Regions from separate parts of the Homo sapiens genome. Here regions 2 and 3 are each linked to region 1. The links come from fine-mapping of genetic effects on gene expression. A gene starts in region 1. Each other region holds a variant in brackets. All regions are shown on one strand. Distances are between the middles of the regions.

Region 1 (8,188 bases):
AGCTCTGACAGTCAGCAAACGCTTTGTTGAGTCTTGGCCATGTGTATTTCAGGTCTCATGTGCCCAGAGACATCTTGGTCAGAAGGCAGCTCTTGTGTGTGGCCCTTGAGACAGCAGAACCAGAGGTGATCTGTTCAGGAATATTCCGCATGTAATGCCCCTGGTTCAACTCAAAGAACCAACCTGGTAACGCCAAGAACAAGCTTCAATACTCACCTACCCACACTAAAAAACTTGCAGAAAGTGAGTTTCTCTGGAGACCCTTACTACTATACTGTGGCACTATTACTAAGACTGTGTGACAGGCAGGAGAGGGGAGTTCTAAAGGAGACTGTTAGTGCAGGCAAGATGGACTTGGGAGAAATTGTTGAGAGATGTTTGGAAAAGGACAACCAAGGAAAAGGAACAGTGAGGAAGATAAAGTGCTACAACCTCTAAAGAAATACTAAGGACCTACTACACAAAGGAAAAATTAACAGTTTCTATGCTCAAGACAGAAATTGAGGGTTTGGGGAGTAATGGTATTAGGTCGTTCACTGGGGAAGTATATTTATTACAACTTTGTTTATGTTATTTTTAATACCCTGGCTTATATACCATTCATTTAATTCAGCTAAATATTTAATGACTATTGTATTTCAGGCACTATTCTAGGTCCTCAAGATATATCATTAAACAAAAGTCCCTAGGCTCAAGAAGACATTCCAGGAGGCATGTATTAGATTTTTATCATCTTAAAAGCTAATTGATAAAAGGTAATAAAATAAGTGTAAGAGAAGGACAAAAGAAAGACCAGAAGAAAATGAAAACAGAAAAGCTAACAAATCCAGATGTAAAGGGTAAAAACTGTCTACATTATTTTTGCTACTTCCTCCATGGAGGGGTGGAGTTTGTTTCTCCTTCTTTTGAATCTGGGCTGGTCCGGTGATTGTTTTAACCTATAGAATCTGTGGAAGGGAAGCTGTGCCAGTTGTGGATCTGAAGCTTTGAGTGGGCTTGCCAGGCTCCACTTTTGAGAGTTTAGAAACCTTGAAGAAATTCACCTCCACCAGGGAGAGACCATATGGAGAGGCCACATGGATAGAGAGAGGCCGTGTGGCAACACAGAGAGGAAGGGAGGCCTGACCAGCCCAGCTGAGCCCAGGAGCCATCGTGTTAAGTGGGACATCTTGGATGTTCCTGCCAAGACAATGTTGCAGATGCCTACACCCCCAGCTGACACCAAGTGAAACAGGCCACTCAGCTGATCCCAGTCAAACCACAGAACCATGGCAGACAATAAATGATTGTTGTTTTAAGTCACTAAATTTTAGGGTGGTTGTTTATTATGCAGCAACTGATGACCAAAACAGAAAGTGATACTTGGAAGTGAGGTCTTGTGTAACAAAACCTTAAAACATGTACGTGATGATTAATTTTAAGTGGCAATTCGCCCAGGCATGGTATCCAGATATTTGGTCAAACACATCTAGTTGTGATGTGAAGGTATTTTTTAGATTTTAAGTCAGGAGACTCGGTGTAAAGCATGTTACCCTTCATAATGTGGTGGGCCTCATCCAATCAGTTGAAGGCCTTAAGAGAAAGACCAAGGTCCCAGAAGTAAAAGAGAATTCTGCCAGAGACTGCCTTTGGACTCCAGCTGCAACATCAACTCTTCCCTGGGTCTCCAGGCTGCTGGCCTGTCCAGCAGATTTGGGGCTTGCCCGACTTCACAATGATATAAGCCAATTTCTTAAAATCTCTTTCTCTCTATTAATGTATTTATATTATGTTATATAAATGTTGTTTCTCTGGAGACCCTTACTACTATACTGTAGCATTAGTACTAGGAATGTGTGACAGGCAGGAGAGGAGAGGTCTAAAGGAGACTGTTAGTGCAGGCAAGATGGACTTGGGGGAAATTGTTAGCAACTAGAAGAAAGGCAGACCCTATTATGTCCTGGTAAAAAGTTTGGTAACACTGTCACCTGTCACAATACAAAGTGCAGAAAATATACCTAATGATCTTATAGGTTTGGTAAGGAGATTTCCAGGCAGAATGTTGAAAGTGCCAACTCACTTCTTTTTTTGGTTTGGTTTGGTTTGGTTTTGAGACGGAGTCTTACTCTCTTGGCCAGGCTGGATCTTGGTTCAGTGCTACCTCCTCCTCCTGGGTTCAAGCGATTCTCCCACCTCAGTCTCCAGAGTAGCTGGGATTACAGGCACGCGCCACAACACCCGGCTAATTTTGTATTTTTAGTAGAGACGGAGTTTCAGCATGTTGGCCAGGCAGGTCTTGTACTCCTGACCTTAAGTGATCCACCTGCCTGGGCCTCCCAAAGTGCTGGGATTACAGGTGTGAGCCACAGTGCCTGGCCCAACTCACTTCTTTTAGCTGTTTCTGATAAGGTGCAGAAAGAAAGAGAGAAAATAATTCTTTATTTTTTTAAAAGCAGAATCAAGAGCAAACATTTCCATGCCAGGATTTGTTGGGTTTGAAAATAAAACTGTCATTGTTAGTCTTTCCAAAGAATATCAAAAAAGAAATAGTCTCAAGGCAATGATCGAGTCCAGAGTGCTGCCAGTAAAACATGTTCACAAGGTCAAGATTTCAGGGATGTGGCTGTAAGACTGTATGTGTGTGTGTGTGTGTGTGTGTGTGTGTGTGTGTGTGTGTGTGTGTGTGAGAGAGAGAATATTATCTAAAATATATAAAAATCTCCCATAAGAAATAAATAAGCAGCTCAATAGAAAGTATCAAGTATCTGGACAGGAAAATCACAGAAAAAAATATAAATGGCAAATAAACATATACAAGATGCTTAGACTCACTGATACTGAGGGAACAATTAGATGCTCTTTTTTCTCTTAAGTAAAAAAGTTGAAAATATTCAGCATTCAAGAGATTGTGGGAAAGCATCCCCTCTGATAGACTGATGATGGGAGAGTAAAATGGCACAACTATTTTGGAGTATATATGGAATACCTGGAATTTGGAAAAATCAAAACTTAAAATATGCATAATTCTCCCTTTTACTCAGCAGTTTCATCACTAGAAATCTATCCTACAGAAATACTCCCATATGTACACACAATGTATGTATGAAGATTTTCATTGCATCATGTTTCTCCCAACTAAGGTGAAAATTTCATGAGTGAGAACTTCGTCATTCACTCTTGTGTCATCAGTAGCTAGATCACTGTCTGGAACATAGTGGGTGCTCAACAGATACTTGTTGGATGAATGAATGGGATTGAAAAATTGGAAACAAGCTAATTTCCTGTCAATAGGAAATGGTTACATCTAGTTTATGAAATACTATGGGCTGTCAAAAGAAATGAGATAGATCTTTATGTACTCACATTGAAAGATCTTCAAGACCAGTGTTACTTTTTTTTTTTTTAATGAGGTTGCTTTCTAACATTACCATTTCATTTTGGATTTCACTTCATACTTTACAATACAGCCTGGAGGAACGCCTCAACTTCTAGTTTCTCTCTCCATTAAGTATCTAATTATGTGTAAATAGAACAACTAACGGGACGCTGGGAAGCCCAGGAGGCAAACATTTTGCAACCGGAACTGTTGAGTGTGCTCGGAGAGGCGAGGGAGGTCTATTTGCTCGTTTCCTCGGATTGCTTAAATGCGGGATTTTGCTATCCCAAAGCACAGAGTGTAAAGTAGCAGCTCCCCCTGCCTGCCTTCCCGGCTTCTTCTGTTTTACAAGCAACGATAATTTCCCGGTGAAAGCGAGGCCTGGGAATCAAATCCAAAAAGTGGTTGTTCCCTTTAGGAGAGGTTAGTAGCTGGAAAGGAGCATGAGAAAACTGGAAGGTCCCATAGACTAATGTGTTTTTTTTCCAAGGTTTGTACAGATTCACCGAGTTGCTGCGCCTTATCATCTAAGTAATGTCTCGGTTTTAGAAGTTGACATTGTTTTGTTAATTACTTCTCTGGTCACATGCATTTCAGGCCGCGCAAAAAGAATCGGAGTGCTGCTTTATATAAATGAATAAAACTAAGTTCCGTGGTTTGGCCCTTCTACACCCTCCTCCCCTACCACAGGCTTTGCAAACCACTTAAGTGTCCTCTGTAACCGTCCGGGGGCACTTTCGGGTCAGAGACAGCGGGCGGAAACCGCAGAAAAAGTTGAAAATGTCAGCGACACCCTGCATCTGCGAGTTCTATTCCGTCCCTGAAGCGGTGAAGCGGGCTGAGCGCGCCGAGGGTGGGCTGCAGCCCGGCGAGGGGCTGGGCTCAGGGCACCTTGCCCAGAAGGCGGGCATCGGTGCCAAGTGTTCACCGGCTACGCAGCAGAGCCACCGAGCAGCGCCCCCCCCCGCCTCCCGCGGGCACGCTCGGTGCCAAGGCCAGCTGCTCCTGAAAGCGGCCCGCGGAGCCCCGAGCCCGGGACTCCCTACTCAGCACCACCCGGCGGGCTCTCGGCTGACCCGCCACGGAAGATGCCCGGTTCCGGGCGATCCGGGCGGCTTCCCTGCGCGCGGGGCCCTGCTGTCCCCGCAGTGCCCACCGGTGCGCCTTAGTCGCCAACCCACCTCATCTCAGGATGAATTTCAGTGTACTTGACGCATCGCGCCAGGACGGTCTCGGGAAAGCGCTTGGTGGTGCCCGGACCGCTCCACTGCTGGCGCCACCTCGGGACGACCACCGCGAGCACCACGACGAGGATCAGGACCAGGATACTGACGCCAAGACAGAGTTGGGCTCTCCTAGAGAGCCGGCAGCAGGGTTTGTCCCCGGACACCGGGCTGAACTCGCAGTTGGCCATAGGGCTCCAGGCGGGGTTGGCTGGGCGAAGATGAGGCCGGCAGGAGGCTAGGCAGCAAGAGAGAGGCTGGCTGGGTTCTGAAACTGCACCTCCCCTTCTGTTTCACTTGCCTTTTCTCTGTTTCCCTTCCCACCCCCAACCCCTTGCCTCAGAGTTCCGTGGCTGGTTACACCAATAAGAGTTTAAAAGACCAACAACTATAGGCTCCTGTGCAGTGACCCACCCACTCCACCTCCAGGGAGAAACAGCCACCTTAATCCTCTGCAGGTGTCCTAAGGGGGCAGACAGTACATCCTTATACTCCCTCCGCTAACTCCCTTCATCAACCGGGCACTTTACACCTGAGCCACATTTGCTTCCTGGAAAGCATGAGGGTGGGCTGCCTGCTTCTATACGTGTGTGCACACAATGCCCTCTGCCTGGAAAAGGATGTCCTACCTCTCTTTCTTAACTCTGACAAATGCCTGGTCAACCACCTTTAAAGACTCAACTTAAGTCTGACTCCTTCTCTCAAGAGGCATCAGTGGCTAAGCTCTGGGTTCAAATTTAGTTCTTGCTGGATGACATGGGGCAAGTTACTTAACCTCTCTGTACTTCAGATGTAAAGCCGGGATAGTAGCAGTACCTACTTCATGGGATTGTTACGAGGATTAAGTGAGTTAATATCTACAACGTGTTTAGCACAATACCTGGCACATGGTAATCACCCAGTAAATGTAAGTTGTTACTACCAGCTCTAGGAGCTGCTCAGAGATGCAATTTTATAGTCCATGGAATGTGTTTGAAGCAGGGTCTGGCACACAGTAATAATACTGCACTCTATGCGGGAGTTTAATAAATAATAAAGTGGCTTTTCTTGCCTCTTCTTTATTAAGAGAACATCTGTGACATTCAAGCAGAGACCTAAGTAATGTGAGCGATCAAGTCACCCAACTCCCTTGGGGCAAACATTTCCCAAGCAGAGGAAATGGCAGGTGCAAAGACTCTGAGGCAGAAAAGCTCTTGGCCTGTTCCAGAGCAGCAAGGAGGCCAATTGTAGTTAGGCTAGAGGGTTGAGGGAAACAGAACAGAAGTTCGGAAAGTAGCAGGAGACCAGATCACCCATAGCTCTGTAAGACAGGATGACTTTTTGGACTGTGTGTTTTATTTATTTTTTATCTTTTTTATTTTGTTTTAAGTTCTGGGATACATGTACAGGACGTGCAGAGTTGTTACATAGGTAAATGTGTGCCATGGTGGTTTGCTGCACCTATCAATCCATTGCTTAGGTATTAAGCCCCTCATGTTTTAGCTATTCTTTCTGATGCTCTCCCTCCCTCCACTCTCCCCAACAGGCCCCAGTGTGTGTTGTTCCCCTCCCTGTGTTCATTGTTCAGCTCCCACTTATAAGTGAGAACATGCAGTGCTTGGTTTTCTGTTCCTGTGTTAGTTTGCTGAGGATAATGGCTTCCAGCTCCATCCATGTCCCTGCAAAGGACATGATCTCGTTCCTTTTTGTGGCTGCACAGTATTCCCTGGTGTATATGTACCACATTGTCTTTATCCAGTCTGTCATTGATGGGCATTTGGGTTGATTCCATGTCATTGCTATTGTGAATAGTGCTACAATGAACATATGCATGCATGTATCTTTATAACAGAATGATTTATATTCCTTTGGGTATATACCCAGTAATGAGATTGCTGGGTCAAATGGTATTTCTGGTTCTAGATCTTTGAGGAATCCCCATACTGTCTTCCACAATGGTTGAACTAATTTACACTCCCATCAACAGTGTAAGTGTTCCTATTTCTCCACAACCTCACCAGCATCTGTTGTTTATTGACTTTTTAATGATCACCATTCTGACTGGCATGAGATGATATTTCATTGTGGTTTTGGTTTGCATTTTTCTAATGATCAATGATGTTGAGCTTTTTTTCATATGTTTGTTGGCTATATAAATGTCTTCTTTTGAGAAATATCTGTTCATGTCCTTTGCCCACTTTTTAATGGGGTTGTTTATTTCTTATAAATTAGTTTAAGTTCCTTGTAGATTCTGGATATTAGACCTTTGTCAGATGGATAGATTTTGAAAATGTTCTCCCATGCTGTAGGTTGTCTGTTCACCCTGATTATAGTTTCTTTCGGTGTGCAGAAGTTCCTGAGTTTAATTGGATCCCATTTGTCATTTTCGCTTTTGTTGGAATTGCTTTTGACATTTTCATTATGAAATCTTTGCCCATGCCTATGTCCTGAATGGTATTGCCTAGATTTTCTTCTAGGGTTTTTATAGTTTTGGGTTTTACATTTTAAATCTTTAATCCATCTTGAGTTAATTTTTGAAAAAGGTGTAAGGAAGGGATCCAGTTTCAATTTTCTGCGTATAGCTAGCCAGTTTTCCCAGCACCATTTATTAAATAGGGAATCCTTTCCCCATTGCTTGTTTTTGTCAGGTCTGTCAAAGATCAGATGGTTGTAGATGTGAGTCTTATTTCTGAGATCTCTATTCTGTTTCATTGGTCTATGTGCCTGTTTTTGGATTTTATTTTTAACCCATTCGTGTGCATTTTATTTTTACCCATACAAGTCACCAAATGACTTGATCTGGCATATTATTTTAAAGGATCAATCTGGCTTTGGTATTAAGAATAAATTGTAGGAGGATAAGGATGGAGAACAGTTACAATGGCTGTAGTAGCAGTAATGAAGGTGGCAAAGAAAAAAAAAGATGGATTCTGAATAGAGTTTGAAGGTAGCAGCAGCAGGATTTGCTGATGAATTGGATGTAGCATTTGCAAGAAAGAGATGAGTCAAAGATGATGCCAAGATTTTTTATTTGTGTAACTGACCAAAGGAAGGAAAGCACTGCAATCTACAGTGATGGGAAAACGGGAGGTGAAGTAGATTTGGTCTTGGGAAGAGGCATGAATCAAGAATTTGGTTTTTGATGTGCTAAGTTTGAGATGTCTATTAGACCCCCAACAGGAGGCATCAAGGAGCCACTTGGGTATAAGCTTCTGGAGTTTGGGCAAGGGATTAATGCTGGAGACACTAATAAGGGAGACCTTAGATATGGACAGTTCTTAAAGCCAAGAGTGTATATATAAGATCATGTGAAGAGTGTGTGCAGAAACAGAAGAGTTTCAGAGTCTCAGCCATGGGCTACTCCTGTGACAGAGGCCAGAAAGATGAGAGAGCTTCAGCAAAGAGAACTGGGAAGGATGATCCCTGAGACAAGAGGAAGGGTGCCCTGAAAGTTATTGATGATAGTGACAAGAGGAATCATTTTAGAGGAAAGATGAGGACAAAGCCCACCCACAGCAGGTTTAGGAGAGTATGTGAGAAGATAAGTGATATCAGTAAGTTAGCTGGGGTTTGCGTGTGTGTGGAGAGCTTTTCTGTAAAATGAAATCGAGAAATAAAGCCATAGCTAGAG
Region 2 (8,188 bases), 33 kb before region 1:
TATCGATGGAACATATCTCAAAATAATAAGAGCTATTTCTGAAAAACCCATAGCCCATATCATACTAAATGGGCAAAAGCTGGAAGCATTCCTATCGAAAAGTGGCACGAGACAAGGATGTCCTCTCTCACCACTCCTGTTCAACATAGTATTGGAAGTTCTGGCCAGGGCAATCAGACATAAGAAATAAATAAAGTGTACTCATATAGGAAGAGAGAAAGTCAAATTGTCTCTGTGTGCAGATGACATGATTGTATATTTAGAAAACCCCAACGTCTCAGCCCAAAACCTCCTTAAGCTGATAAGCAACTTCAGCAAAGTCTCAGGATATAAAATCAGTGTGCAAAAATCACAAGCATTCCTATATACCAATAATAGACAAGCAGAGAGCCAAATCACGAGTGAACTCCCATTCAAAATTGCTACAAAGAGAATAAAATACCTAGGAATACAACTTACAAGAGACATAAGGACCTCTTCAAGGAGAACTACAAACCACTGCTCAAGGAAATAAAGGACACAAACAAATAGAAAAAATTCCATGCTCATAGATAGGAAGAATAAATATTGTGAAAATGGCCATATTGCCCAAAGTAATTGATAGATTCAATGCTATTCCCATCAAGATACCATTGACTTTCTTCATAGAATTAGAAAAAAACTACTTTAAATTTCATATGGAACCAAAAAAGAGCCCGTATAGCCAAGACAATCCTAAGCAAAAAGAACGAAGTTGGAGGCATCACGTTACCTGACTACAAAGTGTACTACAAGGCTACAGTAACTACAGTACTAGTACCAAAACAGATATATAGACCAATGAAAGAGAACGGAGACCTTGGCCGGGCACGGTGGCTCACGCCTGTAATCCCAGCACTTTGGGAGGCTGAGGCAGGCAGATCATGAGGTGATAAGTTCGAGACAAGCCTGACCAACATGGTGAAACCCCATCTCTACTAAAAATACAAAAATTAGCCAGGCGCGGTGATACATGCCTGTAATCCCAGCTACTCAGGAGGCTGAGGTAGGAGAATTGCTTGAACCAGGGAGGCGGAGGTTGCAGTGAGCCGAGATCGTGCCACTGCACTCCAGCCTGGGTAACAGAGCGAGATCTCATCTCAAAAAAAAAAAACAAAAAACAAAAAACAAAAAACAAAAACAGAACAGAGACCTCAGAAATAATACCACATGTCTACAACCACCTGATCTTCAACAAACCTGACAAAAGCAAGCAATGGAGAAAGGATTACCTATTTAATTAATAGTGCTGGGAAAACTGGCTAGCCATATACAGAAAACAAAAACTGGACCCCTTCTTTACACCTTATACAAAAATTAACTCAAGATGGATTAAACACTTAAATGTAAAACCTAAAACCATAAAAACCCTAGACGAAAATCTAGGCAATACCATTCAGGACATAGGCATGGGCAAAGACTTCATGACTAAAACACCAAAAGCAATGGCAACAAAAGCCAAAATTGACAAATGGGATCTAATTAAACTAAAGAGATACTGCACACCAAAAGAAACTACCATCAGAGTGAACAGGCAACCTACAGAATGGGAGAAATTTTTTGCAATCTATCCACCTGACAAAGATCTAATATCCTAAGTCTACAACTTAAACAAATTTACAAGAAAAAAACAACCCCATCAAAAAGTGGGCGAAGGGTATTAACAGATGCTTCTCAAAAGAAGACATTTATGTGCCCAGCAAACATATGAAAAAAAGCTTATCATCACTGGTCATTAGAGAAATGCAAATCAAAATCGCAATGGATACCATCTCACGCCAGTTAGAATGACGATCATTAAAAAGTCAGGAAACAACAGATGCTGGTGAGGCTGTGGAGAAATAGGAATGCTTTTACACTGTTGGTGGGAGTGTGAATTAGTTCAACCACTGTGGAAGATAGTGTGGCGATTCCTCAAGGATCTAGATCCAGAAATATCATTTGACCCAGCAATCCCATTACTGGGTATATACCCAAAGGAGTATAAATCATTGTACTATAAAGACACATCCACACATATGTTTATTGGAGCACTATTTACAATAGCAAAGACTTAGAGCCAACCCAAATGCCCATAAATGATGGACTGAATAAAGAAAATGTGGCACATATACACCATGGAATACTATGCAGTCATAAAAAAGAATGAGTTTATGTCCTTTGCAGGGACATGGATGAAGCTGGAAGCCATCATTCTCAGCTAAAAAACACAGGAACAGAAAACCAGACACCACGTCTTCTCACTCATAAGTGAGAGTTGAACAGTGAGAACACATGGACACAGGGAGGGGAACAACACACACCGGGGCCTGTCGGCGGGGGTGGGGAGCAAGGGGAGGGAGAGTATTAGGACAAATACCTAATGCATGTAGGGCTTAAAACCTAGATGATAGGTTGATAGGTGCAGCAAACCACCATGGCACATGTATACCTATGTAACAAACCTGCACGTTCTGCACATGTGTCCCAGAACTTAAAGTAAAATTTAAAAAAAAATTAACATGTAAAAATCCATCAATTTAATGTGCTGTATTTTGTAGAATGACAAAAACCATATGATCATCTCAATAGACACACAAAAATATTAACAAAATCCAACACTCTTGTGATGAAAAAAACACTGAGCAGATTAGAAATAAAATTTCCTCAACCTGATAAAATTCATCTATTAAACCCCACAGCTAACATTATACATAATGGCAAAAGACTGGATGCTCCCCCTTAAAATCAAGTACAGTCCAAAGATGTCTGATTTCATTACTTATATTCAACATTGTATTGGAGTTCTAGCCAAGGAATTTAGGTAAGAAAAATAAACTAAACTCATCCAGATTAGATAAGAAGAAGTAAACCTATCCCCTTCATGGATGACATGAAATACTGTATATAGAAAATTATAAGAAATCCACAAAAAGGAAACTGTTAGAACGAGTAAACATGGTCAGCAAGGTTTCAGGTTACAAAATCAGTGTACAAAAATCAATTGTATACTATCAATGAAAAATATACTATCAATGAAAAATATAAAATCAAAATTTAAACAATTCCACTTATAATAGCAGCAAAACAATTAATATTCTTAGGAGTAAATATAACAAAGAATTACAGGACTGGAACATTGAAAAATACACAACACTGTTACAAAGTAAAGAAGACCTGAACAAATGGAAAAACATTCTACATTCATGGATCAGGAGACTTAA[T/C]ATTGTTTTTGTTTTTGTTTTTTTGAGACAGAATCTCGCCCTGTTGCCCAGGCTAGAGTGCAATGGTGCGATCTCGGCTCACTGCAACCTCTGCCTCCAGGGTTCAAATGATTCTCCTGCCTCAGCCTCCTGAGTAGCTGGGATTACAGGCACATGCCACCATGCCCAGTTTTTTATTATTATTATTTTTAGTAGAGACGGGGTTTTACCAGGTTGGCCAGGCTGGTCTCGAACTTCTGAGCTCGTGATCCACCCGCCTCGGCCTCCCAAAGTGCTGGGATTACAGGCGTGAGCCACCGTGCCCGGCCAGAAGACTTAATATTGTTAAGATGACAGTATTCTCCAAGCTGATTTACAGCTTCAATGTAATCTCTATAAAAATCCCAGTTCCTTCTTTTGCAGATAGTGACAGTTTAACTTAAAATTCATATGGAAATGTAAGGAACACAGAAGAGCCAAAAATCCTGAAAAAGAAGACCAAAGTTGAAAGACACAAACTTCCTGATTTCAAAACTTACTACAATGCTACAGTAATCAAGATAATTGGTACTGGCATAATGATGTAATCACAGGACCAGTTCTAACTGGCCCTACTCTGATGATAATAGTATGTCAAGTTATTTAACAGGCACAAAGTCAAAAAGTTGTTAAGTCATGCAGCCGAAGCAATGCAGAAAAGAAGACCTCAACCTTGAATAACACCCAGAAGAAAAATTCCTCTCCTGCCCCACCACAGAAGAAAATGGTCAAGACATGACTGGAACCTGAGGGCCCAAACATTTTTAAAAGCAAGAAACCTGAGCCCAGGCATGTCCAGTGTTAAGACCCTTACCATACCTTACCATAAATGGTCTTGTTTAAAGTACTTCCAGTTGAAACCTGCCCTACCAGTGCTTCTGCATACCAGCTTGCCCTCCCTAACCCATAAAACTTGTCCCAGATCCCAGAAGGGGAGACAGATTTGAGCTTTGCATCCTGTTTCCTTGCAAGTCAACCTCACGATAAAGCTTTTGCTTTTCTCAAAAACCAGTTCCATAATATTGGCTTCCCTATCTGTCAGGCAGCAAGCACATTGCTCAGTAACAATGATAGAAATATAGATCAATGGAATAAAGAGTCCAGAAATAAAGTCTTACAGTTACCATCAATTAATTTTAGACAAGAGTGCCAAGGCCATTCAATGGGAAAAAAAAAACAACACTTTTCAACAAATGGTGCAGGGACAACAAGATATCCACATGCAAAAGAATAAATTAGGACCCATACTTTACACCATATACAAAAATTGACTCAAAATGAATGAAAGACCTAAATATAAAAGGTAAAATTAGAAAATTCTTAGAGGCAAACATAGAATAAAAAATTGTCATAACCTTGGATTAGGCAATTATTTCTTAAATATGATACCAAAAGCACAGCAACAAAAGAAAAAATACATAAATTACACTTTATCAAAATTAAAATCCTACGTTCTTCAAAGGACGCCATCAAGAAAGTGAAAATAAAATTCACAGAATGGATTAAAATATTTGTAAATATTATTTCTGTTTCAGGACTTGCATCCAGAGTAGTAAAGAGCTCTTATAATTCAATAATAAATGGATAACCCAATTAACAAATGGGCCAATAATTTTATACACATTTTTTCATAAGAGATATAAAAATGGCTAATAAACACACATAAAAATGCTCAACATCATTAGTCACTAGGGAAGTAGAAATCAAAACGAAGAGATACCACTCACCACTCACTAGGATTGGGCTAGGGGTTGAATTATGTCCCATTTGAAACTCACATAATGAAGTCCTCAGCCCAGTACCTTAAAATGTGACCATTTAAAAATAGAACAGTTGCAGGTGTAATTAATTAATGCAAGGGTGGCATCCAACAATCATGTTTTAATAAGCCCTCCAGGCAATTCTGATGCAAGTTTAGGTTTGAGAATCATTGGGTTATACATGAAAATGTGAAGAGTTCAACAGCGGTTTCTTTCCAATATCTGTGCACCATATTTCCACTTCATCCACACTTGCCTTTGAAAGCTATGCCAGGAAACCATTATCAACCTGGTTTTCTCCGTACATTATATATTTAAGGAAAAAAAAGCTTATTACATTATGTACTTCAATGTCAATGAAAATTTATGGGGCACCATTTTGGATAGTTTAGAGAAAAGAGATTTGGCAGCGATTTTCCTTTAGGGGATCTTGTTTCAATTCTATTAATGCAGTGGCCTTCTTGGGAACTTCCTGTTCCCATACTCCAACTCCCTTGTAAAACTCTTCTACATCTTTCCTTAGCAGCATCTTTGCAGACAAAGATGGAAGAATAAGATAATTTTCCACTACAAAAGATCTGGCAGGAAAGAGAAATTCATGTGCACTGAGCACCTACATGTACCAGATGCTTTCATAAGTGTGTTTATATATAATCACCAAAACTTTTATTGAGTCCCACAGAGAATTAAGACACCTCCAGAATTATTTTTATTCTTCTTGGGTATATATATCCTACTTCAAGAAACATTACCTCAGTATTCAAGAAAGTCCAGGTTACAAATTTAACAGAATTCCTTGTTTAGACGGAGCAGAGCTATAGAACGTTAGAGTTGAAACAGACCTAGGAAGAGTTTGTAACTTAACTCTCTGCCCTTTCTACATCTTATGAATCCGAGCTTTCAGTGTGCCCTACAAATTAGAGAAAATGAGTAGAGGCAATGAGAAATCTGGGGGCAGGTTTTATGAAACTATTTATTTTATCCTTAAAGCCAAACACCTCACCTTGGTTGTGCGAGTCAATTTTTTTGTTGGTTTGGATATATATGTTGAAATAAAAAGGGATTGGGACTGCAGTAGACAGGGATGGGGGCAGATCTTTCCAACTAAAGAAGGAGCAGAGAAGGAATGAATCATTTCTGGAAGTTCAATAATATTTTTTTCAAAGATTCTTCTGTTCCAAAATTGGAAGTCTTCATCAGGAGACGTCTAGGGGTGCCTGCAGTTGGGACAGGGAGACAGTGTCACGGCAATTACTAGCTCAGCAGCCGTTCCTGAGAGCTCATTCTGTGCCGGTGATTTGCTCCTTCCTAAACCAGAAGTGCTGTTGGAAGTCAGAGGTTCTCAGCCCTGGCCACACTTCAAGGTCACCTGAAGAGCTTTGGAAAAGCTGCAGTGCCTGCTTTCAGACCCACCAAGTGAGAATGGGGAAAATGGAAGACCCCAGAACCAAGAATTTCTAAAAAGGTCTCCCAAACGATTCTAATGGTCAACCAGGGGTGATGAGAAGTAACCTAACGAAACCCCTTCATTTCGCAAATGAGAAAAAGGAAGTTTATAAAGGAAATGTGACTAGCCCGAGGTCACACAGCTGTTAAATGTTAGACCAGCAGTTATTCAACTAGTTTTCCCCAGCACTTAAACTCAGGCAGAACCAGAACCTCCAAGTGTCTCCTGATTCCCTCCACCACCTCCCTCAGCTGCTACTGCCTTACTTTACTTTCATTTCTTACCGCCAGTTAGCCAACAATCAGCAATGACTAATCATTGTACTAATTATAACAACCACAACAATTAGCATTTACCAAGTGCTTTCTTCACGCAGCCATCTGGCTAAGTGTTTTACAGGCATCTCATTGGATCCTCATTCACACATACCTATTATCTCCAGTTTACCTATAAACTCAGAAGACCAAGTAACTTGCCCAACACTCCACAACTAGAATATCCCAGCCAGAATTTGCATCTTGTCCTGTCCAAGTCCAGACCACATACCCCTAGACACTTCACCAGACAGCCTCCCAAGAGGCCATCCCAAACGTTGCTTCCAAGAACAGAGGGCGAGCCCCCTACAATATTTTTAGAGAAAGAAAAGCTTTTCTTGAATAGCTCTTTTTCCAGAGCCACCTACTCAGCCACCATGATGGAACCAAATAGTTACCGTAGGGCCAGGCAAGGCTAATGCAATCAAGCAAACAAATCTGAAAGTAATTCATAACATCATTTTGAACTGTTCAACTATAATTCCTTCATCCTAAGACCTTAAAACCAGGGCATCTTCAATGCTTCTCTGTCCAAAAAACACTAGGAGAAATCACCCCACACTGATCAATCCATGTTGTAAGAATAGCTATCCCTGGACTAGTATAGAGTGGTTTTGTGACCTTCTATTCTCCTTCTTATAGTCTCAATTTTTCTGCGATAAGCATAAATTACAATGGGGGTCATAACAAAAATTTGATTTTCTTGTTAAATTGCCTGGGCAACTATACCAAATGTTGGAGAATCTTGGAGGGTCTTAGGAAATGGAAACATCTCAGGTCCAAGCACCCTTGGTGGTCACCTGTTATTTTTGTGCCTCTCCCAGGTCTCTTGGTCACAATGTATCCTTTCGCATCCCTCATCCAGATAAAGACCACACTGTGTAACAGGTAAGACAGTGTTGGTGCCCCAGACCCATGTGCTGAGGTCTAATGATGTGAAATGTGGGGTGGGGAGGGAGGCTAGGACTACAGACCTCTTCCAATAGAGCTTTCTCCCCAAACACTTCCTTGCATCCTTAAGCAAAATTGGATACCTAGTCACAAGAATCACAGAACACACCCAGAATCACACTACAAATAATGTCAGGGAGACAGGTAATAAAGAGTCTCAAGCAAAGCAAGGAGAGAATGGCACAACCTGCAAAGCCCCACTGGTCCTGCCTTCCTTCCTGCATGAGACATATGCTTTCAGGCCCAGAAGAATGAATAAAGTCACTAAGTGAGGTTTCGTGGGGTTCCTCACACAGTCAAAGGGATCTAAGGGATGAAGTCTCCAATTTATTCCATAGAGAATTGTACAGCTTACATGATCTTCCAGGGAATCATGCCTCACGGATTCTGGATTTAGTTTTCAGAAATAATCCTTTAATCAAGGACATCCTGCTAAGGGTATTCTAGAGATGGAGCTCTTTGTTTTAGCAAATATTT
Region 3 (8,188 bases), 23 kb after region 1:
ATAGAGACGGAAAGTAGATTAGAAGTTCCCTAGGGCTGCATGTTGGGGAATGAGGAGTGACAGCCCAATAGGAATGGGGTTTCCTTGGGGTTGAGAGGAATGTTCTAAACTTGTGTGATAGTCACAAAACTGAATATGCTAAAAACTACTAAATCATATACTTTCAGGATAAATTTTATGTTTGTAAATTCGATCTCAAAAAAAGATGTTAAACAAAATCCCTCCTCACATAGGGTTTATGGTTTCTGGTGTAACTCCCTTCCATTTTTCCTGGTTCTGATATGAAGATAGCCCATTCCAGATTTGATGCCACTGGGTAAATACTGGGAGTGGAGGGGGGAAGTAAAGGAGAAAGCGGGGTATTGAGCCTTTATTAACTTATGGTAATATCCAACTAAATAGTAGCTCTTTGGTGCTGTACCCCATGACACCCCCTGTTACAGAAACAGGGAAAATGGTTTCCATTGGCAGAATAGTCATACGCTGCCTCTTACCAACTCTTAGGAAGAGAAATAAGGAATGAGGAAGAAGAAAGGGGATGGAAGAGAAGTGAAGAAGTGAGAAAAACAGGAGGAGGAAGAAGTTAGAGAAAGAAAAAAGAAGAAAAATGAAAATAGATGAGAAGTTAAGGTAGAAGAAAATGAAGGAGGAAATGGAGCAGAAACATTAACTGAGCATTTACTAAGTGCCAAACACCATACTGGGGTCTTTCTATACACAGTGTTATCAAATCTGCATAATAACCCCATGAGGTAAATATTCTTACTATACCTGCTTTACAGATTTGAAAACTTGAGTGTGGTGAATACAGCATTTTCAGAGGTGCCACTGCTGGGCGTTCTACCAGTCAGCCCTTGAGCAGCACATCCATCTTCTTTCGCCCAGAAATCTGGGTAGTGGGCTCCATAGTGGACCAGTAGTATAATCTGGATGTTATTCTTGGCTCTTTCCTTAGTCCTTCTCCGTCCCTGAGATGCTTGAGCTTCCTAATATTCTGTAATATACACCAGGAGATAGTTTTTGATATACATAACTAGGAATTTTGACTATGGCAGACAGAGGTCAGTTAACTTAACTGAGGACACACAGATACGTGTGGTGGAAATGGGACTTGATGCCTGTCCACCTGATTCCAAGCATTGACTCTTAGCCATGATTTCCTACAAAAGGCACTGAGGTGTGTAGGCCATAGCTCCGTAATCCACCTGCAGTGAAGACAACACCAGCATGCAGGTTGTGGTTCAGGTGGGAAATGTTTTGTTCTGTTTCATTCCATAGAAATAGGTAGGCATTGACGCCAAATACTTTATACATACTAAAACTTAATTAAATGATCTTAAATAATACTGCATATTCTCACTTAAATGAAGAATCTAAAACAATCAAACTCGTAGAACCAGAGAATAAACTGGTGGTTACAGAGGCTAGAGGGTGAGGGTGTTAGGGAGATGATGAACAAGGTACAAAAATCTCAGAAGGAATATGGAAGTTTCTTTGAAATCTATTGCATAGTGTGGTGAATATAGTTAACAAACAGTATCATACATTTCAAAATTGCTAAGAGAGTAAATTTCAAATGTTCTCATGACAAAAAAATGCTAAGGATATGATTTCATTCTTTTTTATGGCTGCATAGTATTCCACATATTTAGCAGCAACATGGATACAGCCGCAAAAGATGTAGCTTAGGATAATGGAGGCCATTGTCCTAAGTGTATTGATGCAGGAACAGAAAATCAAATGCCACATGTTCTCACGTTTAAGTGAAAGCTAAATATTGAGTGCACATGGACATAAAGATGGAAACAATAGACGCTGGGGACTACTAGAGGAGACAGGGCGGAAGGGGAGGGACGGCTGAAAAACCAGCTGTCAGGTACTATGCTCACTACCTGGGTGATAAGATCATTAGTATACCAAACCCCAGTGACACACAATTTGCCTGTGTAACAAACCTGCCCATGTACCCCCTGAAACTAAAATAAAAGTTGAAAAAAAATGCTAAATATTTGAGATGATGGATATGTTAACTAGCTTAATTTAATTATCCTACATTGTATTTATAAATTATAACATCACGTTGTATCCAGAAATATACACAATTATAAATTGTCAATTTACAATAAAAATTGTTATTAAAAATGCTGATGTTATTGGGTTTTTAAAACATTAGACATTTAATGTTTAAGAAAATCCCACCGGGCGCGGTGGCTCATGCCTGTAATCCCAGCACTTTGGGAGGCCGAGGAGGGCGGATCACCTGAGGTCGGGAGTTCAAGACCAGCCTGATCAACATGGAGAAACCCTGTCTCTACTAAAAATACAAAAATTAGCTAGGTGTGGTGGCGCATGCCTGTAGTCCAAGTTACTTGGGAGGTTGAGGCAGGAGAATCACTCGAACCCAGGAGATGGAGGTTGCAGAGAGCCGAGATCCTGCCATTGCACTCCAGCCTGGGCAACAAGAGCAAAACTCTTTCTCTAAATAAATAAATAAATAAATAAAATTTTTAAAAGAAATTCCCTATAAAGGATTCTCTGTAATATTAATGGAAAGAAATGGTGAAGAGGGAGTGAAGTTGAGGAGAAGTTTTCTTTAACAGGGGACCACTGTTCAGAACAGTCTGCGGGGCGGGGTGGGGGTGTGCTTTTGTCCTCTTTATAGACAGGAGGATCATTATTCTGTTCAGCCAAGGTCACAGGACTAGGACAGTGGAGCTGGTATTTGACCTTGGGCCCAAAAAAATACACTGCAGTTCGTGCAGGGAGAACCAAATGGTCTACCTCCACCCTCCTGGGTTCTTTGGCATGGCTGTGAATTAAATCAGCACACAACAGATTAGCAAGAAAAAAAGCTATGTTTAACTACACACGTTGGCACAGGGGTCCCGCGAAAATATGAGAGTTGAAGAAAGACCAGATGATTGAAGCTTATATAGCAGCCTGAGCTACAGAAAGGAATAGGAGGAGCTTGGGGCTTCTGAGGGTGGTAGAGACAAGCTATGAGAAGGGGAGGGAGGAAATATAAGGTGAATAAAAGTTTGTCTTGTTATGCAAATAAAGTATCTCAGGTAATAAAAATTGTCTAGGAACAGCCCTCTTCCTGATACAGATGGTTTTACTAATATAGATTTCTTTTACAAGAAACTTAACTTTCAATTTACAATAGGCATACATTTCTTTTACAAAGGGCAGCTTTTCAGAGATACTCCTGCGTCTGCAGTGTATCTGAATAACCAGCTTGAAATATGCCAGGAAGTGTATTTTGGGGTGGCACATCTTGTCTCCCACAGTATGTTTTGAGGTGGTGCATCCTGAGCCCCAACAAATGAGCATCTTGGAAAGAGATATGGCTGGCCATTGCACAGCCAGTGCACAGAAAAATGTGAATAGCACTCCAAACCTCACCCTCCGAGGCCGCTAGGGGG[A/T]AAAACAGCTCTCCACAGCGCAACATACCTGCTAGATGTTACAATAACCCAAGTCTATGATGATGACCTGAGTCATTCATAGAAGATATACCCATTAAGGACATCATCTTCATAAAACTAGTTATATGCAACACGTCCTATGTCAAAATGTTTCTCAACATGTGTTAACCTATCAAACACACTCTCAACTAATCTCCACCCAGGTCAGGAAAATGTGGTTGAGTGTCACTTCCTGAGTCTGGCTGGTACTGCAAATATAAATTCAACGTTTTTTCAAACACATCTCACCCCCAGACCTGCCATTGGCATGCACATCTTTAACCACAAACCACGATTGAAAATGAGAAAGAAAACTCTCCTCTAGCTGGGCGCTTCATAGGACTAGCCAGGTACGACCATCTCTGAGGGTCTTTGACAGCTCAGTTTTACTGCATAATCTGTTTTCAAGACCCTTTAAAAGACCAGATTGTCTAGTACTTTTCTTTTATGAGAAGAGCTTCCCCCAACCCACCCTGCAGTCTTTTAGCAAAAACACCAGAAAGTCGGTTTTTCCCCCTTGTTTTGTTGTTGTTTTTGTTGTTCATGGTGGTGTGTTTTGTTTGTTTCAGTTTTATTTTTTCAAATTCCATGGTTATTTTCAAAATGAAGATCTAGCTTACAGTGTAATTTTTAAGTTTATGTTTATGTTGCAGAGACTGGGAGAACTGTTTAGTCACCACCTTGAGAACCTTAACATCATCTATCAGTTTACATGGTACTTGCCCTGTGGAGGAACTCAGAGCTCTCAGATTGTTTTACCTTTATTCCCTGGAAGCTTTGGACTATTGGAATATAAGCTGGAATAAGAAACTCATTGATTTGAAATTGGAGTGAAGTGATTATCTGTCTAATAACCCAATGGTTAAGTTTTTTTTTTCAAATAGGGTTTTCAGAGTACACAAATGAGCACACACTCACACACTCACAGATGCATAAACACTCTAAGACCTTCATCACTGGTGGTAACCACCACTCTACATTGACTGAAGGTGACATCTGGACTCAGCATTTCTTTTTTCTTTGGGGCTTTTCACCCATAAATAATATGCAGTTGTTCAATTCATTGCTAAACTACAGAGATCCAGTGAAGAATGAATACATTAATATTGCAAATGCATTTACTCTTTGACTCACTGACCCCATTTCTAGGAATTCAACCTACAAATATCTCTGCCCACATGAAAGATAATAAATATACCAGATTAGTCATTGCAGCATTGTTTATAAGAGAAACTGGCGCCAGGCACGGTGGCTCATGCCTGTAATCCCAGAACTTTGGGAGGCCAAGGCGGGCGGATCAAGAGGTCAGGAGTTCAAGACCAGCCAGACAAACATGGTGAAACCCCATCTCTACTAAAAATACAAAAATTAGCCAGGCGTGGTGGTGCACACCTGTAATCCCAGCTACTGAAGAGGCCGAGGCAGGAGAATCACTTGAACCTGGGAGGCGGAGGTTGCAGTGAGCTGAGATTGCACTACTGCACTCCAGCCTGGGCGACAGAGTGAGACTCCATCTCAAAAAAATAAAAAAATAAAAAAAAGAGAAACTGATTGCAAACAACCTAAATGATGTTCCTAACGGGGTGGGTTAAATAAATTACAAAACATCTCTCCCATGGAATATTATGCAGCTGTAAAAAATAAAGTGAGGGATCTCTGTATGTATTGATACAGAATAATCTCCAGGATGTACTATTAAGGAGTACAAAGTATTTTGTGTTTAATGCTTCCTTTTGTGTAAGAAAAGGTAGGGAGTAATAACATGTATTTGTATGTGCTTGTGCAAAGAAACCCTAGACAGATCTACATGAACTTTAAACAAGTGGTCATCCGAATTAGAGGTGTGGGACCAGAACAGGGGACAGGAGTGGGAATGAGATTTTTTCATAGTGTTTTATTTTTAAGCCATGTGTATATACTACCTTTTCAGAAATAACATAAAAATCACCAAATGTAAACTAAAACAAATCTACGTACTTAAATTACAAAAATGGACCGCTGGGAAAGAGCCCGTTTTTTCCATCTTTTCAGGCATGCTTATCAAATACTTCATCAGTTGGAAATTCAACAAAATAAAGTATGTGTGCAGCTACATCTGACGTTGATTCTTTATCTCATTCAAAACCACACAGTGCTGACAGCAACATCCTTCCTCTCAGCATTCATGCTTCTGCTACCACCCAGGGGCACTGAGTTCACAGCCAGCTCACAGAAGGTAAGAAACTGCACACAACCCTTAGAGAGGAGACAATCTTAGACATGTGCATGCTTCAGAGAACATCTGGAAATTCTGCAATGTTCCTGAACTCAACATACCCCTGTTTCCTTGGGTTCTTTTAGGCCAGTTTTCACAATGGGGTCACACTAATCCTCACAACCTCTACTTTAGCGACTCATGAAGCCTCTATTGTTCTGCAGAACACCATCCCCTTTCAAAGAGCCTCCCTCTCAATATTTCCGGGGGTCTTCGTGGGGATTATCACATCTGCACTTGAAAAAGCTGCCCACAGTCCCACAGGCCTCCATCGTGGTTTTCCTCTCTTTTCAATCTCCACTGATGATACACACGAAGAAGCTGTGGCCTCACACCCCCCCACTTGGCCTTCCAGATCTTCCAGCCTCTCCCTTTGGCTCTCTGCCCTGGATCCAGCCCCAGGAGGCTCTCCCAAAGGAAGGAAGGTGACTGAGGTCCGGTTATCCATTCCCTCAGCTGGCTTCCTCCCTGCAGGGTTGCCTCAGGCCACTGGGTTCCTTGACAGAGGCCACTGCTCTTCTCCAGATGACCTCTCCATGGGACTCTCTCCTTCCGGATTCCCATGACCTCCCTGTTGCCTCACTCTGTGAGGCCTTGGTGCATCTCTGTACACATCAATGGTTTGCAGATAGTCCCTATTAAACCTCCTCCGATTTTCCTGATTTGAGTGTGCTATCTGTGTGTCTGGATGGGCCCTGACCGATTTGGACTCTCCCTGCCTGCAAGGCAGTTTATGTATGTCCCATCATTGCCTTTGGTGGGCACCATCTCTGCGAACCTCCAGCTGTGCCATGGCTGGGCCACACTTTGAGAGCTGGGTCCTATCCCAATACTGTTTGTGGCTCTGTGTCTCGTAACATTCTTAAAGACCCTACTCTTTCTCCTTAGGGCTCACCTAATGGAGAGGGATGCTACTAATAATTATGCAAGGACAAAGGACACCCACTGGCGCGATCGTGAGCCATTCAGGATGTTTGGTTTCTACATGTATACACAGGAGCACACACATACATAAAAAATCTCTGCTACAGATACGATGGATACCTTCTAATTCTTCTCCCTTTTCCAGACCGCCTTTATCTGAAAAAATCCCTCCCACAAATGGACTTCTGAAAGTCCCATGCTATCAGCTCTGACATATCTGAGCCCCAGAGATAGAGACAGCTTAGACAGAGGCTGGAACATATCTAATCTGAAATTTTAGAAGAAGAATGCAGCGTGCTGTATTTTGGATATGACATTTATATCAGAGAGATGAAGATGGAGGGTGATATATTGCCAGATGAAATGCTAAGAGGACAGCCACTTTATCTTCTTAGTGATTTATATTTAAATATTTTTTAGTGATTTATATTTATATTTCTTAGTGATTTATATTTAAATATTTCTTAGTGATTTATATTTATATTTCTTAGTGATTTATATTTAAATATTTCTTAGTGATTTATATGTAAATCACTTTATCTTCTTAGTGATTTATATCTTCTTAGTGATTTATATGTACTATTTACATTATCAACCAGCATCAATGTGCAGTGGCCAGAAGCCTCTCTCCAGTGGGCCTTTACTGGCTTTCCATCTCATTCCAAAAAAAGCCAGTGAAATAGCCTGCAAGGCCTGACCTGATCTGGCCTATTTTCTTCCCTCACCTTGATCCTGCCATCCTGGCCTCCTTGCCGTTCCTCAAATAGTTCAGACACATGGCTACCACGGGGCCTTTGCTTCTGCTCCTTCTGCTTGAAATGTTCATTCTATAGATATAAGAATGGCTTGGGAGGCTGAGGCAGGTGGATCACTTGAGGTCAGGAGTTTGAGACCAGCCTGACCAACATGGAGAAACCGTGTCTCTACTAAAAATACAAAATTAGCTCTGCATGGTGGCACATACCTGTAATCCCAGCTACTCAGGAGGCTGAGGCAGGAGAATCACTGGAACCCGGGAGGCGGGGGTTGCAGTGAGCCGAGATTGCGCCATTGCACTCCAGCCTGGGCAATAAGAGCGAAACTCTGTCTCAAAAAAAAAAAAAGAATAGCTTGATTCCTTCACTCCTTCAAATCTTTGTTTAAACATCATCTTCTCAATGAGGCCTATCCAGACTTCTCATTTAAAACCATAGCCCCAGCCTAGCTTTCCATGTTGTATTATTTCCTGGAGCATGCATCACCTTCGAAAATACAATTTATTCCTTATACAAGCTATTTATTATCTCCACCCACTAGAATGTGCACTACAAGAACATATGCACAATTGCCCATTTACTGAATAGATCCTAGAACTTAGAAGAACACCTGGAACTCATAAACACACAATGATAGCTGTTTAATGAATTAATGATCAAAGCACAAATCTGATCATACACCTCTCTTGTCAAAGTTTTTTAATCTTTTATGGTTTTCCTTTGCTTTCAGTGCAAAACTAAATCTCCTTAGCATGTTTATAAAACGGCAATAATTCATTTTCTAGTCTTAT

Direction of the effects. Alleles are on the strand shown, and positions count from the first base shown. SD is a standard deviation of normalised expression in the study named. Not every link is listed here.
In carriers of allele C in region 2, the expression in subcutaneous fat of the gene that starts at base 4,856 in region 1 tends to be lower than with T alone (small effect, 0.31 SD a copy in GTEx).

What was found.
Region 2: its variant is fine-mapped to the expression of CD38 in subcutaneous fat (GTEx, PIP 0.97).
Region 3: its variant is fine-mapped to the expression of CD38 in whole blood (TOPMed, PIP above 0.99).

Annotation. Positions count from the first base shown.
Region 1 is chr4:15,774,996-15,783,183 of GRCh38, reverse strand. CD38 (CD38 molecule) reads right to left here and starts at 4,856. Exons shown (of 8, transcript NM_001775.4): 1 at 4,537-4,856. The coding sequence starts at 4,769. RefSeq lists silencers at 4,098-4,147, 4,338-4,387 and enhancers at 4,518-5,017, 4,429-5,071.
Region 2 is chr4:15,807,757-15,815,944 of GRCh38, reverse strand. The region is part of intron 1 of CD38 (CD38 molecule); the gene reads right to left. Among named protein-coding and RNA genes, the nearest start is that of CD38, 34 kb to the right of the region's middle. RefSeq lists an enhancer at 2,914-3,633. The variant T/C (reference allele first, on the strand shown) is at 3,222.
Region 3 is chr4:15,751,950-15,760,137 of GRCh38, reverse strand. LOC107986186 (a long non-coding RNA gene) reads left to right here and starts at 3,712. Exons shown (of 2, transcript XR_001741393.2): 1 at 3,712-3,814; 2 at 5,597-6,067. It also overlaps a transcript of BST1 not described here. The variant A/T (reference allele first, on the strand shown) is at 3,426.